Regions from separate parts of the Homo sapiens genome. Here region 2 is linked to region 1. The links come from fine-mapping of genetic effects on gene expression. Tissue or cell type: whole blood. Region 1 holds a variant in brackets; the other region holds the start of a gene. All regions are shown on one strand. Distances are from middle to middle.

The links. PIP is the estimated chance that this variant, and not a neighbour inherited with it, causes the effect.
Region 2: AP3B2 starts here. The variant in region 1 is fine-mapped to the expression of AP3B2 in whole blood (TOPMed, PIP above 0.99).

Annotation. Positions count from the first base shown.
Region 1 is chr15:82,569,837-82,575,665 of GRCh38, reverse strand. It overlaps CPEB1 (cytoplasmic polyadenylation element binding protein 1), which reads left to right. Exons shown (of 13, transcript NM_001365242.1): 4 at 4,134-4,322. Among named protein-coding and RNA genes, the nearest start is that of RPS17, 32 kb to the right of the region's middle. The variant C/T (reference allele first, on the strand shown) is at 3,627.
Region 2 is chr15:82,707,256-82,713,084 of GRCh38, reverse strand. It overlaps AP3B2 (adaptor related protein complex 3 subunit beta 2), which reads left to right and starts at 3,210. Exons shown (of 27, transcript NM_001278512.2): 1 at 3,210-3,491. The coding sequence starts at 3,379. It also overlaps the pseudogene LOC338963. RefSeq lists silencers at 3,157-3,206, 3,427-3,686.

The sequences.
Region 1 (5,829 bases):
CATTTATATAATCCTTGTGAAGTGCTTTTCAGATTTTGTGCCTTTTAACAATTGAGATTTCGTTACTTTTCAGTTAAGATTTCTTTTACTGATTTGTCAGATATGGTTGTGGGTATTTTCTCACATATTGTGGCTTGCGTAATTATTTTCTTAGTGGTATCTTGATGAGCAGAAGTTTTTCGTTGTGATAAGGTCAGCTTATCAACTTTCTCCATGATCATTGCTTTCTGTACTCTACATAAAGAAACCCTTGCTTCTATGTACTCCCCCTCCCCTACCAAGTTACAAAGATAGGTTCTTAGAGAGGCTTTGTAGTTTATACTTAGCTTTCACTTTTACGTCTCTGATATCTACTAAATTAATGTTTGTATATAGGTCAGAGTTTATTCCCTCCTCCCCATATGGTGTTCCAGTGCCATTTGTTAAAAAGTTTTTCCCCAATGAATTGCTTTAAGTCTGGTATATTGGGATTACACAGATGTGCAGATGGCCCCAGACTTAGGTTGGTTCAACTTTGGTTTTTGACATGATGATGGTGTGAAAATGATACGCATTCAGTTGAAATTGTACTTTGAGTATCCATACGACCTTTCTGTTTTTATTTTCATTACAGTATTCAATAAATTACATGAGGTGTTCATCACTTTATTATAAAACAAGTTTTGTGTTAAATTATTTTGCCCTACTGTAGGCTAGTGTCAGTTTTCTGAGCACAGTTAAGGTATGCTAGGCTAAGCTATAATGTGCAGTAAATTAGATGTATTTAAATGCATTTTCCGTTTATAATATTTTCAACTTACAATGGGTTTATCAGACCATAACCCCACTGTAGTTGAGGAACATCTGTATATTAATTTTGTGGGTATCACTTTTTAGCGCTGTTGAGTCTTCCAGTACATGAACATGGTTTATGATTTTTTTTTTTTTTTTTTTTTTTTTTTTTGAGACCGAGTCTAGCTCTGTTGCCCAGGCTGGAGTGCAGTGGCACGATCTTGGCTCACTGCAACCTCTCCCCTTCCTGGGCTCAAGCAATTCTCCTGCCTCAGCCTCCTAAGTAGCTGGGACTGCAGGCGTGTGCCACTGTGCCTGGCTAATGTTTTTTGTATTTTTAGTAGAGACAGGTTTTCACCACGTTGGCCAGACTGGTCTTGAGCTCCTGACCTCAAGCGATCTGCCTGCCTCAGCCTCCCAAAGTGCTGGGATTACAGACTTGAGCCACTGCACCTGGCCTCAAATATTTTCTTTAATCCTCACAAAACACCTAAAAGATGGCTACTGTTGCATCTTTAAAGAAGAAAAGATTCTCAGAAAGACACAGTGGCAGACCTGGTGAGCAGAGCAAGGTCTGTCAGTCATCTAAAGCTGTTGATTTTTCCAGCCTGCCACACTAATGGTTTTAACAGGTATGGCCTGCATTGAGTTGGAGCTAGTGAAGAAATCCTACAATGGTAGTGAAAATCTTTATCTAGAAGAAACAACAGATTGAGGAATGTCTGGATAAGGAGGAAGGTGAGGTCTGTGGTGGGGGTTGTAGGGGTGAGGGTAGAATTATACTGTGTGTAGAACTCCAAGCTCCTGGATGCATGTAGCCATTTGGTCTTAAATGGGTTTAACAGACCTGTTGCTCAGGCCTGGGGTCTTTCAGCTTGGGGTGGGAAGATTGTGTTAGTTGTACACATCAGTACTGTTCAAACTTTTGAGATGGGAACTACTTTGTCGCCCAGGCTGGAGTACAGTGGTGCAGTCATGGCTTTCACTGCTGCCTTGAACTCCTGGGCTCAAGCAATCTTCCCAAAGTTCTGGGATTATAGGCATGAGCCACCACACCCGACTGCTCAAACTTTTTTTGCATACATATATATTAACTGGGGATCTTGTTAAAATGCAGATCTCAATTCTGTCGGTCTTGGGTGGGGCCTGAGACTCAGTATTTATAACAAGCTCCTGGTGATGCTCATATTGCTGGTCTGCCACACTGTATTTTGAGTAGCAAGAGCATAGTTGATTCTCTCCTCGTGAGGGATGGGGGTAATCATATGCACAGTCACCCTGATTTTAATGGGTAGAAAATGGCTGCTTCTAGACATAGATGCCCTCAGATTGGGGTATGGGGATTATATAGATATTTGGTGTAGGGGAGAATAGATACTTAAATATGGATGTTTTTGAAGGAAGCATTGTGTTTTGGTAACTAATATGTATGGGTGAAGTCTAAAGTATATCCTTAGCTTGAGGGAAGGGTGAACATAGAGAAGCAGGAGGGGAGTAGTCAGGGGTAGGGGCAGCACCAGTATGGGTGATTTTTGCTAGGCCTTTGCCATGATGAACAAGGCTTTGACAAACACAGATAGGGAGCAAGCAGAATATCTACAGCCAGGAGGAATAACGTGGATGGATGACACAGCAGCAAAGCTTTAAAAAAAAAAAAAAATCTCCAAAGGAAGGAGACTGATAATTTTCCCTTCTAGGCTATGCCTGAGTGCCTGTGGACACAGGGTGTACTGCAGGAAGTTCTGAACAGCTATTTCTGTGGCAGCATTATTCTCTCGACCCTGCCATGGGAGGTCCCAGGTGGGCATGCTTCCCGTATCTGCTTGCTTCTCCTTGCAACAGGGGAGAACAAGCAGGTGGAGTGCTACCAGCTGAGTCCAGGTTTGAGCAGCCTGCCTGGTGAGTCTGGGCCTGTTGCCCTACCCTCCTTTATGAGGAAGAAGCCCAGTGACCCTGGGCTCATGTTGGAAAAGGACCGATGTGGGAGGAGATGGCAAAGAGGAAATGGCGGAAGCTCCAGAAGCTGAATTTTCTTAGTCTTTGTTGCTGGAGCTGTGAGTGGCCACAGAAATAAGCATTGGTCTTGTGCAGCACCTCTGAGAGAGGGCCTGGATGTTAGAGGCATCAGTGGCCCTCACGGCTGCCCTGTATCATGCTCAGGGCTCCTGGAAGGGCAAGAGAAGCAATATTGACAGAGCTAGGTGATTAGGTTTCAGAGTTTGGTGTTTCTAATAGGGCGTAACGATACTTCAGAGACTGTTTCTCTTGGTTTGTCAGATGCTGCTTCGAGAGTGTTTCCTCAGTCTGTGCCTACAGTTGCAGGAGGGAGGGGAGGAGCTGAGCCGCTGTATCTGTTCATGACTAATACCCATCTTGTTGGGATGAGGGAACCTGGGCACAGGGATTATCCTAGTCAGGGCAGGTCTCACTCTGGCATGTGGGTTGTGGGCCATGTCCTTTGAGGTGTACCTGGAACAGCCCAGTGACTCTCCCCCACTCTGCCAACGCTTACCCCCTTTCTCTGTGATAAGCTGCTCTAGACAAGCCTGGAACACCAGGTGTTGTTCCCCAGGGTCCAAGTGTACAGTATTTTTCTGAAGGTTATCTTGTTCCTCAGTGGTAAACACTGCTGTGTCAGGGTGCTGCTCAGGGGCCACTTGGAGCACAGATTTTTGCTAGCAGGACTGTGAAGCTTTGCATTGGGCTGCAAAGCCAGGGCTTGAGCCAGCAGCTGGAGAGAGTCCAGGACTAGAGTGTTTTTGGGTTTGGGGGTGGAGAGCAGGGGGAGGGAAAGGGAGGGGCAGGAGGGCAGAGCCACACGAGCAGGCAGTCGGCTGCTTTGGCTCTGCTGTCGG[C/T]GGAGAGGACTTCAGTCGTGCGTGAGGGCTGCTTGGCCACCATTGCTGGAGACCGGAGGGCGCTGCCTTGCAACCCAGACTTAACGGCACTGCACCGGGACTATTCCAAGTAGCTGTTGTGCTGTCTTTCCCTGGGAGGCAAGTCTCCTCCCTGTCGTCCCCTCCTGCTCCTCCCCCGTTCTGTGAGGGATGATGCCGCTCTCTATTGCACGGCTCAGCCGGCTGATGTCACTGGCAGCGGGAAGCATCAGCAGCCTGATCACATGCTGGCCCAGTCTGTAATGCAGACGGGATAGGGGTGTGTGTGTGAGGGGAGGGGGCCTGTATGGCAACTGCTCTTGCCCCAGCGTCCCCAAAAGTGCAGAGGCAGCGGCTGCAGCATCCAGCCAGCTTGGATGTCTGGCCTGTGAGCCTGGGGAAACTATTATTAATAATATTTACTGTTGATAATATTGGGGAAAACAGCCCTTAACTCTGAGGTTTCTGCTGTGCTCCTTTCCAAAACAGACTTCCAGGACTCTGAAGAAACAGTTACAAGCAGGATGCTTTTCCCAACCTCTGCGCAAGAATCTTCCCGTGGCCTCCCAGATGCAAATGACTTGTGCCTTGGCCTGCAGTCCCTCAGTCTGACAGGCTGGGACCGACCCTGGAGCACCCAGGACTCAGATTCCTCAGCCCAGAGCAGCACACACTCGGGTGAGTGCCAGAGAATGAGTTGGCTGGGGTAAGGGGATGCATGGGGGTGGTGAACGAAGATATCCACAGCAACAGTTGTTCTGTTCCCCTTTGCATCACTCCCCACCATACACACATACAACATGGAGCTGTTTTGCAAGAGATGGAAATGCAAGCTGTGAGTGTGGCAGGACAGATGGCTCCACGTAAAGGCAGGCATGGCTCTTCCACTTACCCTGATAAATTCCCTGGAGTTGTTAGTCTGCACCTGGAGTGGCCCTGAGGAGGGTCCCCAAGGCGTGGTGGCCTTGTGCAGAAAAGATCCAGCTAACCCCCTGGTGCCCAGGCCTGTCTTGGAGATGATGAAGCAAAACACTTTTAGGTGGGGGAGGGGAGTTAAGGGGTTGATTACTGGATGACCAGAATTACTCAGTGGTTTTAAAAACCAGGGAGTTATATGAAGAGTGAGTGGTCTCTGAATCATGGCAAGGGAAGGATTTTAACCTCAGATGAGGCTGGATAATGCACTGAGATATTTGGAATTGACTTAACATAGGGTTCAGAGCATTGATCCTGGAAAGGGGTAGGCAGGGTGAGTGGGGTGGGGTAACTCCCAGCTATAGAATCTTTTTTTTTTTTCCCTTTGTGTTGAGAGTGACCAGCTGGATAAAAGAAGAGCCACTCCCCTTTAGGATCCCTTGTCTTCTTGGTAGGGTTCAGTGGGGACAAACTAAAGGGACTTCTTGGCAGCCCCCCCTTAAATTGCTTCTGCTTATACCTTCTGTTACCTGTTTATTTCCCTCTTGTGGTACAAGGAGGAGGGTTGCCTAAATACAAGTCTTGGAGTATTCAGGAAGAAATGTGAACTTAAACACTACAGGTATACTTACAAGCTACATATTTTGCTTTATGTAAATTATAATAAAGAGGTATTGGCAGCAGATACTCTAGGAAAATGAAAAGGTGGTAAGGGGCGGGGGGGAGGGGGTGGTACAGCCATTCGCTGTTGGTACTGACAGTGGGAAACACCAAGTCTGCTGTCCTTCCCTTCCCTCCCTGGTCCAGGAACCGGCAGCCATGGCAGCAAGGTACTGTCTTGTTGATTTCTGTGGCCTCCACCCTGTTTGGCGCAGGTCTTTTTTTAGAATGCTTTGCAGAGCCTGGGCCCGTTGTGTCTGTTAGGCATTTTAATGCCCAGTTGTTTTGGTAAAACCCCATTTAGGAGAGGGGTATTGAAATTGTTTTATGTGGATGTGGATGGGGAGAGCTTTACCTTAAGTAACTATCTCTGGGTTAAGATAGGGTTTCTTGAAGTACTGGCCTTCTGCTGACTCAGGTTTTTCCAGAAAGGTCAGCAACTACCCTGTTCCCCTGGGCAAGGAAGTATGGTATCACTGTTTGGTATTCTATGCCTGGAGACCACGGTACTTTGTTTTGTGTGTTCTTGACGCCAACCTTGGGGGCCTATGAAGCCAGCCTCCCCTGTCCTCACTTCCACCGTATCTGAGCAAAAGATAGAAGAACTCAC
Region 2 (5,829 bases), 140 kb before region 1:
AGCGGAGGTTGCAGTGAGCCGAGATCGTGCCACTGCACTCCAGCCTGAAGACAGAGCAAGGCTCCATCTTAAAAAAAAAAATGCAGAAGATACTATGGAATGGGCCAGGAGAAAAAGGAAGGATCAGGGATGGGAGAGACACAGTGAGCCACACAGTAGCTGGCATTCTGCATGGTGGGCCTGGGCAGCCTGGCTCTTCATTTGCATATGGGTCTTTCCCACCCCAGTCAAATCTGCTGGAGCCAATTCTGCTTCCTTCCAACAAAGATGCCCAGACACCTGGCGGTAGTGTGTTACTTCCTGCTCCCAGCTCCTCTAACACCCCTGGAGAGCTCCATGCCCACAGGTCTTACCTTCACCCACTTTCCCAGGCTCTTAGATCAAACATCAGGCACAGTGCAGGCAATGGGGCCATCCTCCCAAGTCCCAAAAGCCTTCTGTTTCCAGTAGAGATGGGAGAAGCCTGAACTAAGCAGGTTTCTCACTTCCTTATGGAGGAAGAAGAGCTAAGAGAGGTGACTGATTTTAGTACAAAGGGCACAGGGCACAGAAACATGCAGGAATACATTAGCTGCGTGCACTCCAGTGATACATAGCCTCTGTAAACCTGTTTCCTTATCCTGAAAATGGGGACATTGTTCCTATCTTGTGATTGTATTAAGGATCAAATGAGCAGCTGCTCAACAGAGGTTTCTGGAGAGGTCCTTCTCCACACAGACTTGGGAGGAGATGCTTGTCCTAGGTCCAAATCTCATCCAGGTTTCCCGATTTTTTCAGGTCTTCTGCTCAACTCAGGTACCAGCTGACACCCACCCAGTCCCTGGTGTTGCCTTCAGGAGCAGTGGCAAGATGGGAGCTGGTTGGGGAAGGGGATCCTAGCGCAGGGGGGAGGAGGAGAGAATGGAATGGCTGGACTTTGAGATGAGAAGACAGTTGGATGGGGAGGAGGCACCATTTGCTGGAACTGAAGGGTTCTCAGTAGGGGCTCGAGGCAGGATGTATCTGTGATATCTGGACCTCTGGAGTCCCTTAAGCACAAGGAGGCAAGTGTGTGGCAGTGAAGACATTCTGCCTTGGGCCCAAGCCCAAGACAGGTCTCCCTGAGCCCTGGGCAGACCATCCGACCTATGGTCATTGGAAGGACCCACCTCCTCCCTATCCCAGGCCTGTGTAAACGCCAGGAAGGCAGGTCCCTTTCTCCATGCAGGCCCTGACTGGGGCAGTCAGCACCATTAAGTTCTTCCTCTCTGAGGCTTTCCTGGGTCAACACTTCGAGGCTGTGTAGTTGGAGGGCAGGGAGCCTGAGCCAGGAGACGTCTTCCTGTTCAGGCTGATTCCCCCCACCTGACGCTGGTGCGGGGCCCACGTTGGCATATACTGTGGCCATGGAGAGATCATCCACTTTGAGGGTGAGTGCCTCCAGCAGAAACACAGGCCCAAGTCTGCGGAGAGGCTGCCCAGCCAAGCCACGCCCCACCAGTGAGCTGGCTACTCGGGGATAAAGACTGAAGTCCCAGGCTGGGGGTACGTTTCTCTGAAAATGGGGTTTGGGCACTCAGGGTCCCTGAGGTCTCAGGAAATGGGGGTGCGGGATCACAGGGCATAGGACCTAAGCCTGGCTCTGATCCGCACCCCTCTGGCGATCCCCGCAGGCAAGAACTCAGGAGGCTGTGGGCTCCTGGGAAGTTTCTGGGCTCCTGGAAAGGCATCGTATCCAAACAGGGGCAGCGCCCGCTGCTGCGCTCCTGCTGGCGCGTGCTGCGCAGAGTGAGCGAAGCGACGGACGCGGACCCACCATCCTATCACTCCATGCGCAGCAACTGTGTGCACTTTGCACTGTGTCTGCTCGTCCCAGGTCCCAGCCTGGACCCCCGGCAAATAGACGGGAGCTCCAGCAGGTCGGTGAGCGTGGCCCAGCTACCTGCACAGGACCCATCCCACCTCCTGAGCAGACTAGCCAAAGCGCCTTATAAACGCGCAACTGCAAAATCCAGGCCCTTCTCTTCCCACTCCCCACCCAGGCCAGTTTTCTCCAAATTCAAGATCCACTTTTCTCTGGCAGGCACAAAGCCACCGGAACCAAGCGGACCCACCCACTTGTCTAGGTTATCCCAACAGAACCTTCTCATTACCCCAATAGAACCTTACCCCAGTAGAATTACCCCCAATAGAACTTTTCTACTGAGCCAAGCTCCACCTTTCTGGGCCCCACTCCTTCCCAGGTAGGCCCGCCAATTCTGCCCATGGAGACTTCGGGATGCTAGTTACAGACCAAGACTCAGGCCTTAGGAACTCCTCCAGTCCCCATGCCCAGCTAAAAGACTCCAGCCACCTCAACTGATGCCCAACTGGATCCTACCTCTTCCCCCAGCCCAATTCACTACTTTCCATCGGATCCAAGCCTTCCTTCCTTGGGCCTAGGGGTCACTCGGGCTCGGGAGCTGAACTGGAGGGCTCACATGACTCAGGAGCCCTGGTGGTCACACCAGACCCTTCTCTTCCTTTTCAGGTGTCAATGGACGTGGACGTGTCCCCGGATTAAGCATGACCTTGGCCCTCCTGGGTGGACGTGGAGGCTTCAGAAAGATTCATTAAACTACTTTCCAAAGCTTAATTAGATGTTCACCGTCCTCTGTATCCTGTTTCCCATCTCTCTAAGCCCCCAAGGGCTCCTCGGAGCTCCCTGACCTTAATTCCTTAAATTCCGCCACCTCCAGGAAGCTCCTCGGCTTCCTGCTGCCAAGCCAGATTTTGTAGGAAAGGTGGGGCGGGAAAGGGAGCGTCCTTAGGTATCTGAGGCCGGTCCTCGGGTGCGGTGACCCCTTCCCGCTCTAGAACCCCCAGCCTGCGGGCACAGCCTTCTTTCCAGTTCCCGCTTTCCCTCCACGGCGTGGGTGAGCATCCGCGCGTGCGTCTGGGGAGAGCGGAGCCCCAGAGGCCCGTCCCGCCGAGGCCAGGTGGTCGGGGGTGGGGGCAGCTATTCCACATCCCCTGCAAGACGGTCCCAGCGTCCGTCCAGCAGACTCGCCCACCTTTAGATCTGGAGACGAGCCAAGTCGCTTTAAAGGGCAGAAGACGCCCTGAAGAGGGCATTTCCTAGGGATGGGCGGGGCCAGGCCCTGACGCACCGCCCCTGTCGCCTCCTCGCGGACACGCCCTCCGCTCGGCTGGCGCCGGTGCCTTTAAGACCTCAGCGCGCGGCCCTGATTGAGAAATCCGCGCGCAGCCTCCGCCGCTGCACACTGCAGCCTCTGCTGAACCCCTGCCGCGCCGCCGCCTTCGCCAGCCCGGACCGGACCGGCCCGCCTTCCCTTCCTCCGCTCCAGCCGGCCTCCGGCCCCGCAACCTCCTCCTCGGCGAAGTCTCCCTGGCCGCCCCATGTCGGCCGCCCCCGCCTACAGCGAAGACAAGGGCGGCTCCGCTGGCCCCGGGGAGCCCGAGTACGGCCACGACCCCGCGAGCGGCGGCATCTTCTCCTCCGACTACAAGCGGTGAGGGAGCCCGCCAGGAAGCTCGCGGGAGGGTTGGGGCCGGGGACCGGGCGAGGCGCGCGGGCACCATGGACAGCGCCCGGCCCCAGCGCCGGCCCCGCCCCGGCCGCGCCGACCGGAAGCCCGCCCGGCCCCCTCCTGCGGCCTGGAGCCCCGGCCCAGCGCGGGCAGCGCTGGCACCCCGGCTCCAGGGGCCGGCCTAGGACGCGGAGGGGGGCAGATAGGGGCTGGCGGGGGATGGGCCAGCTCAGTTTCGAGAGGAGAAACCCTCCGGTTCCAGGTGTTTCTCCGGTTTGCGGCGTTGCGTTAGGGGTTCCCTTCCTTTTTCGTGCTAGGCGGGTTGGCTTCCCAAAAATGTGGGGGAGGGGTCTGAGTCAGCGAACTTGAGCTTGAGCCTGGGGCCTCTTCAGGAAGGCGGGCCCTGGATGTACTTGCACAGCCTCCCAGCTTGGCCCTGCTGCAAATTCATTTCCCCTCCCTCTGGTCCCCATCTCCATCTGACCCTCACATCCCTGCTCCTGGCATTGCCCCTGTAGTTCAGCTCCACCTTCACACCCTCCCCCACCTTTGATTCGTTCGTTTGTTTCTTCATTTGTTTATTCGTAAATTCTGCAACAAGCATTTATGAAAAGCCAACTGTGTCGAGTCCTGAACTAGTCACGGAATACAACTGTGAACATGAGACCCTTCTTGTCCTCACGATGCTCTAGAGGGGAGCACAGATGAAGAAGCAGTCAGGGACAGTCGAGTGTAATGGGGGCAGTGGGAGCAGGGAGAGGACCTAGTCTCTGGCGCCGGAGAGAAGGAAGACAGGAGCGTGAGGTATGTTCCAGGCAGAGGAAAGGGCTTTCAGGAAGGTTGAGAGCCAGGCCACAATCTGTGTGAGCCACTGGACTGACCAGAAAAGAGGGTGGGGAGGACTCCTGAAGGATTCTAAGCAGGCGACATAATCAGATTTATATTTTAGAAGGACGTCAGGCTGCTGCATTGTGGAGAAGAGATTGGAGGTGGGCCAGATTGAACAAGAGACAAGGGAGGTGGGTCTTGAAGTTCACAGGCCTGGCATGATTGTGGCCTAGACCAGGGGAGAGGCAGAAGATTTGAGGCTGTGGAAGAGGTGGAAGCCTCAGACCTGATGATTAATTGGATATTGGGTGGGGGTTTAGAGGGACAGGGGGAGAAGATGAGGATTTTCACGCACGTCCATGTGAAGAGACCACCAAACAGGCTTTGAACAATAAAGCTTTTTAATCACTTGGGTGCAGGCCAGCTGAGTCCGAAAAAAGAGTCAGCGAAGGGAAATGGGGTGGGACCGTTTTACAGGATTTGGGTAGGTAGTGGAAAATTACAGTCAAAGGGGGTTGTTCTCTGGCGGTGGGGGGACACAAGGTGCTCAGTGGGGGAGCTTTTGAGCCAGGATGAGCCAGGAGAAGGAATTTCACAAGATAATGTCATCAGTTAAGGCAGGCACAGGCCATTTTCACTCTTCAGTTACTTCAGGCCATCTGGATGTATACGTGCAGGTCACAGGGGATATCATGGCTTAGCTTGGGCTCAGAGGCCTGACATTCCTGTCTTCTTTTATTAATAAGAAAAATAACATAAAATAGTGTTGAAGTGTTGGGGCAGCAAACATTTTGGCGGGGGGTGGTATGGAGAGATACTGCTTCTCCATAGCCTTGAAGGGCTGCTTCGAGCGGGATTGGGGTGGCGTGGGAACCTAGAGTGGGAGAGATTAAGCTGAAGGCAGATTCTGTGGTAAGGGATGATATTGTGGGGTTGTTAGAAGAAACATTTGTTGTATAGGATTATTGGTGATGGCCTGGATACGGTTTTGTATGAATTGAAAAACTAAATGGAATAAGAGAAGGAGAAAAACAGGTATTAAAGGACTAAGAATTGGGAGGACCCAGGACATCCAATTAGAGAGTGCCCAAGGAGGTTCAGCATAGCCCTGCCAGCAAAGATTATTTATTTACTTTAAGAGGGAGTTAAGACTGGCAGTTTGGGGATAGCACCAGGAGATATCAGCTGTAATGGTTTGGAGAAACAGTGTAAACCGGCAGTGTAAACAAGAGCAGGGCATGTATGAGTAGTTGAGTATGGTGAATAGGAGTATGACTAGTCAGAAGATAGTAGGGATGACAAGTTTTCTGGGGCACAGTCCAAGTTGGTCTGGTGTCTGGAATGAGACTGGGGCCTAATAAAAAGGAGCATCTATACAGGAGCTTGAATGGGCTGTACCCTGCAGCATTCCGAGGACAGGCCCAAATTCTGAGAAGGGCAAGTGGTAAAAGTATTGTCAGTCCTTTTTAAGTTGGTGGCTGAGCTTGGTGAG